Linked DNA regions of Homo sapiens. The protein of the gene in region 2 interacts with the protein of the main gene of each other region in a pairwise test. Each region holds a gene or a part of one and is shown on either strand. Other genes may lie near its edges.

Region 1 (3,832 bases), on a different chromosome or scaffold from region 2:
GACTCTGTCTCAAAAAATAAATAAAAATAAAAAATAAGTTTCACATTTAGAAAAAAATGATAATTATATACGTTATATTATCTCAACAATCTAAATTTACTCCACCATTGACCTATGCTGTTATTTAGCTCAAGCTGCTCAGAGAGAATTAGTTCTGCATTTGAAAGAGGTAAAGGGGTTGGGTGCTGTGACATTGGAATAAGAACATGAGAAACAATATAGAATTGAAGATTTAAAAAAAATTTTCTTTTTGAGATGGAGCGTTGCTCTGTCACCCAGACTGGAGTGCAGTGGTGCAATCTCAGCTTACTGCAACCTCCACCTCCTGGGTTCAAGCGATTCTCTTGCCTCAGCCTCCCAAGTAGCTGGGATTACAGGCGCCTGCCACCATGCCCAGCTAATTTTTGTATTTTCTATAGAGACAAGGTTTCACCAGATTTTTAAAATATTTTTTATTTTGGTAAAATATATATAACATGAAATTTGCTATTTGTTTAACCATTTTTAAGTATACAGTTTGATGGTATTAAGTAGATCAATAATATGCGCCCATCGCCACTATCCACCTTCAAAATATTTTCGTGACCCCAAACAGAAACTCTGGAACCATTAACAATAACTTCCCATCCCCCTGTTCCCTCAACCTCTAATCTACTTTCTGTCTCTATGTTTGTTTATTCTAGAATTTCCTATCAGTGGAACGATATGATATTTGTTCTATTCTCTCGTTTCTTTCACTTAGCATGTTTTCAAGATTCATTCATGTAGCATGTATTGGAACTTCATTCTTTTCTTTGGCTGAATAATCCACTATATGTATATATCACACTTTATCATGTATTTGTTGATGGACATTGGGTTGTTTCCATCTTTTAGCTAGTATGAATAATGCTACAATGAATACTGATGTACAAGTATCTGTTGAGTCCCTGTTTCCATTCTTTTGGGTATAGGGGTGGAATTGCTGGGTCACATGGCTATAACTGCATTTTAACATAGTTAATTATATAAGTTTTTATGGACACAGTTATGAACCATAAGCAAGCTTTAAAAAATTACAGTTGGCCGGGCATGGTGGCTCACACCTGTAATGCCAGCACTTTGGGAGGCCAAGGACGGTGGATCACCTGAGGTCAGGAGTTTGAGACCAGCCTGACCAACATGGAGAAACCCATCTCTACTAAAAATACAAAATCAGCTGGGTGTGGTGGCGCATGCTTGTAATCCTAGCTGCTAGGGAGGCTGAGGCAGGAGAATCGCTTGAACCTGGGAGGCGGAGGTTTCAGTTAGCTGAGATCGTGCCATTGCACTCCAGCCTGGGCAACAAGGGTGAAACTCCGTCTCAAAAAAAAAAAAAAAAAATTATAGTTAACATTACATACAGTTTAGAAGAGAAAAAGTTTCCATCTATAATTCTGTAGTAAAATTTGTACATAGTTGGGTGCGGTGGCTCAACGCCTGTAATCCCAGCACTTTGGGAGGCCGAGGTGGGTGGATCACCTGAGGTTGGGAGTTCAAGACCAGCCTGACCAACACAGAGAAACCCCATCTCTAATAAAAATACAAAATTAGCCGGGCACAGCAGCTCACGCCTGTACTTCCAGCACTATGGGAGGCCAAGGTAAGTGGATCACCTGACGTCAGGAGCTCGAGAGCAGCCTGGCCAACATGGTGAAACCCCACCTCTACTAAAAATATAAAAAATTAGCCAGGTGTGGTAGTGATGCATACCTATAATCTCAGCTACTCAGGAGGCTGAGGCTGGAGAATCGCTTGAACCCAGGAGGCGGAAGTTGCAGTGAGTGGAGATCGCGCCACTGCACTCCAGCCTGGGCGACAAGAGTGAAACTCCGTCTCCAAAAAAAAAAAAATTAGCTGGGCATGGTGGCGCATGCCTGTAATCCCAGTAACTTGGGAGGCTGAGGCAGGAGAATAGCTTGAACCCGGTAGGCGGAGGGTGTGGTGAGCCGAGATCACGCCATTGCCCTCCAGCCTGGGCAACAAGAGCAAAACTCCGTCTCAAAAAAACGAACAAAAAAAATTTGTACATAGTATCTTTTAGTTTTTTCCATATCTATCTGTATTTAATAGTTTTATTCATAAAGCATATTTTACATTCAGTTTTTGAGTTTTCATATAGGATTTTAATTTAAGTAGTCCTCCTCAAATACTCCCCCAAACTAAAGACACAAACTATGTTGTCTCGACTGAGTGATGGGATTGAGTGATTTCTCCCTCTATTTACCAATTTTTTTTGTAATGTTGTCATATTACTGTTATAACTTAAAAATAAAATTTAAAGAGCTTATTTGACCACTTAGGTGTAAACATTTCACAAGAGTAAGTATAATTTTAAACATTTTTTTGATTACCTGAATAAAGTCTTCAGTGACGAAATACTATATATGGTGAATAGTAACATGAGTAAGATTTTAATGGGAAGTTCTGTTAAAAGAATAGAAAAAAAAAGATAATTTAGCTGATGACAGAAAGACTTATGATGCTGAAAGTAATATAAGCACACTGACACAGCTATATAGTGCTAATAATACTTTTTAAGTTTAATTTTACATTTTTGTGACATCTAGAGATGCTGAGAATTACAGGAAATTGGAGGTTTTATTTAAGAGGATGAATGATCTCTATCCAAGAGATTTTAGAGTTGTTTAAATTAGATGTATTAATCTGTGGGCCTCGATGAAAAGGTTGTGATAGTCAAATATATTTTTCTCAGAAGACGCTGTTTACCTGGTGCAGTGAAGAGCAGAGGAAAGAGGGAATAATGTCCTGTTGTGGTCAGAATCAGAAAAATCGAAGCGTCTCCTGCTTTTCCCACAGACAAAAGGCTAAAAATAAAAATAATTTCTTAAAACAACAACTGTTATTACACTTGCAAATAGCTTAAATAAACTGCATCTCCTATTACATTAGAACTGGCTGAGGCATAGAAGAACATGCTGATTTTGGCACAAGTTCAATTTAGTTGAGAATATTAATTTTTTAGTAGGAAATTTTAAGCAATCAATAGCATGTATCAAACTGAATCAGGGGTATCGTAAAAGAATCTTGCTTCTGGCCGGGGACAGTGGCTCATGCCTTTAATCCCAGCACTTTGGGAGGCCGAGGCGGGAGGATCACCTGAGGTCAGGAATTCAAGAGCAGCCTGGCCAACATGGTGAAACCCTGTCTCTGCTAAAAATACAAAAATTAGCTGGGCATGGTGGCGGGTGCTTGTAATCCCAGCTACTCAGGAGGCTGAGGCAGGAGAATTGCTTGAACCTGGGAGGCAGAGGATGCAGTGAGCCGAGATCGCGCCACTGCACTCCAGCCTGGGCAACAGAGCGAGACTCTGTCTCAAAAAAAAAAAAAAAAGAATCTTGCTTCCCTGAGTAATTGCCTTCTCCAAAGACAGGAATGTTGTGGGATTGGGAGCTGCCTAGTGGTGGCAGTCAGGGAAACAGGACTTGGAGTTTCATTTCCAACCCTATAGCTCATCTCTTGGACAATGCCCTTCACCTGCTGGTGTTTGGTGTGAATTCAGACTAAAGACATTAAAAGTTTTTGCTTTACTTTTTAATTTGGAAACTCCAAGCTGCTAAATAAACCCAGACAAGCCACATACTGGCCTGACAAATTTGCTTAATATATGTTCAGAGCTTAAATGATTTCTCAAGATTCAAGAAAAATATAAAGAAAGAGGCTATTATTACCATTTATTTATCTATTGGGTTTCAACTATGCCTAAACTGGACACTTACATTTAAAATGGTTTTTTTAGCATGGCATAGTGAAAAGATCATAGATTCAACATCATAAGATTCAGGTCCTAACT
Region 2 (2,632 bases):
GGGGCCTTAGCTACTAAGAGTCATGCACCACGGACCACGTTCCTCAGCCCTAAGTATTAATACATCAAGCCCAAAACCGGGAACTGCCCCCACTTCTGGATTCTGGATTTCCACTCTGTTTGCATCTACTACTTCCTTTTTTTTTTTGCCCTCTAATATGCTGGTGAATGCTATTAGTCCCATGTGATTAAATTTAAGAGTATATATAATATGAGTAGAATGACCCCATAAAATTTCAAGAAGTAGGTTAGGCAGCCAAAACTCAAGTTAATTAAGATAATACTACATACAAGGGGATGGTCTTGTTTTCTGGGAAAACTACATATCCAGAAATATCTTTTTAAATTCTATTCATTTTAACAAATGATGATGGTCCTAAAATGTCCATAGCTAACATCTGCACATGGCTTAAATTCATTATTGAAGATGGTAAGAAAAAAAATTTTTAATTATCTCTAATAAAACACAAGGATAATCTATGACAAGTAACTTTGAAATAGCAAGCCAATATTGATGCTCAGTGAGAAATGGATAGGATTCATTTTCTAGGAAAATGACTGTCTCCTTTCCCCTCCCCACAAAGAACAAGACTACATTATTACAAATGAGAAAAATGTTTATTAAGAAAACAATTTAGCAGCTCTCCTTTAGAATTTTACAGACTAAAGCACAACCCGAAGGCAATTACAGTTTCAATCATTAACACACTACTTAAGGTGCTTGCTTACTCTACAACTGGAAAGTTGCTGAAGTTTGTGACATGCCACTGTAAATGTAAGTATTATTAAAAATTACAAATTGTTTGGTGATTATTTTGATGACCTCTTGAGCAGCAGCTCCTGAAAGGAAAAAGGAGAAAAGCAAATCTTTGAAAGAGTAAACTTCAAGAGTTACATACTCAATTCTGTAAAGAAACTTTTCCTTTTCAAAAGCAAAGGTGTTTTAAAGTGACCCAAAACAGATGCAGTTAGCTTACTGAGTCATATCAACATAAAAGCCTATAATTCTTTTTGTTATTAAAGGAAATCTAAACAGTAGTGTGGTTGACCAAACTTTAAAGGATACACACAGGCATAAAAGATTCTCAAAGGACACCCTACTGCTGCATTTGAATTTTACCTTGTATCTGTTTTATAATAAAAAAGGAGAAAGGTATATTTGTTCTGAATGCATTTGTAATTTAGGAAGGATCTATATTAAATATCGCCAGACCGCTATATTTACTCAAAACAAAAAAACTACTAAGAAAAAAACTTGTGCATCTTCTATAACCTGAAGATTCCTCTTTCCCAAATATTCATGGACTGGATAGAATTTTTTTTTTTTTTTAGACTAGAGTCTCACTCTGTCACCCAGGCTGGAGTGCAGTGGCGTGATCTCGGCTCACTGCAACCTCCTCCTCCCAAGTTCAAGTGATTCTCTTGCCTCAGCCTCCCAAGTAGCTGGGATTACAGATGCCTGCCACCACACCTGGATAATTTTTTTGTATTTTTAGTAGAGATGGAGTTTCACCATGTTGGCCAGGATGGTTTTGAACTCCTGACCTCAAGTGATCCGCCCACCTCAGCCTCCCAAAGCGGAGGCCTTACAAGCATTAGCCACCGCGCTCAGCCGACTGGATAGAATTTGAGACTACTGTGCACCAAATACTGTTCTAGGCAGTAGGGATACAGTAAGGAAAAAAGACAAGAAGATCCACTTACCCTCATGCTACTTTTTAGCAGCAAGAGAGAGAGAATTTATTTACAAATAAATAGAATGTGTAGTATGTCAACTGACCATAGGTGCTAAGGAGAAAAAGCAAATAAGGGAGATATAAATACAAGAGAAGGGGTTTGTATTTTAAATAGGAGAGTCAGGGATGGCATCGCAGAGAAGACAGCATTTGAATAAAACCTGAAGGAAGTGAAGGGATATAATGGCACTGTGCAAAATGATTACAGAATGCACAGAAGTAAAAAACAAAAAAAAAAAAACAAAGAAAACCTTCAATTTATACTTTTTTCTGCTATAGTTAAGTCATCCAGTCCATCCATCTGGCTGTACCTCTTCTTAGATTCTGGACTGCATCTGAATAAATAATAATTTGCCCTTTTCTGTGAATTGGCAGAAAATTTTGCTACTTTGGCACAAGAGACTACTTGGTTTTAGTTTAAAATAAATTATTCTGAATCAGGCTTTAATTTGGATTTGCTTAGAAAATAGTTTTCTTAGGTCTGTATGATGCATTTACATTTTGAACACTTCAAATATTAATTAGACCTAAATCTGCCTTTAAAACATTCAACATCTAGAAGGAAAATGCCACAAGCTAATAGCTCAGTCTACAGGAGATCACAGGACAGTAATTTTTTTTGAGGGGTGTTATGGACTGAATGGTTCGTTTCCCCCTCAAATTCATATGTTGAAATCCTAACCCCCAGTGTAATTGTATGAGGATAGGGCCTTTGGTAGGTGATTAGGTCAAGAGCGTAGAACCTTCATGAATAGGATTAGTGCCCTAAGAAGAGACCCCAGAGACTTCTCTTGCCATTTTTTTTTTCACCATGTGAGAACACAGAAGAGAGAGCTGCCTATGAACCAGGAAATGGGCGCTCACCAGACCTGACCATGCTGGCACCCTGATCCCAGA

Evidence for each region.
Region 1: the proteins of NAE1 (region 2) and ALG8 interact in a two-hybrid assay, tested with the Homo sapiens proteins (one large-scale study listed by BioGRID and IntAct).

The regions. Positions count from the first base shown.
Region 1 is NC_000011.10:78,101,608-78,105,439, forward strand, and holds part of ALG8 (dolichyl pyrophosphate Glc1Man9GlcNAc2 alpha-1,3-glucosyltransferase), read right to left. Parts: intron 2,847-3,832; coding exon 2,749-2,846; intron 2,446-2,748; coding exon 2,373-2,445; intron 1,342-2,372; coding exon of another isoform or gene 1,283-1,341; exon of another isoform or gene 1,267-1,282; intron 1-1,266.
Region 2 is NC_000016.10:66,802,280-66,804,911, forward strand, and holds the end of NAE1 (NEDD8-activating enzyme E1 regulatory subunit), read right to left. Parts: intron 840-2,632; coding exon 730-839; 3' UTR 599-729; downstream 1-598. UniProt on the Homo sapiens protein: Regulatory subunit of the dimeric UBA3-NAE1 E1 enzyme. E1 activates NEDD8 by first adenylating its C-terminal glycine residue with ATP, thereafter linking this residue to the side chain of the catalytic cysteine, yielding a NEDD8-UBA3 thioester and free AMP.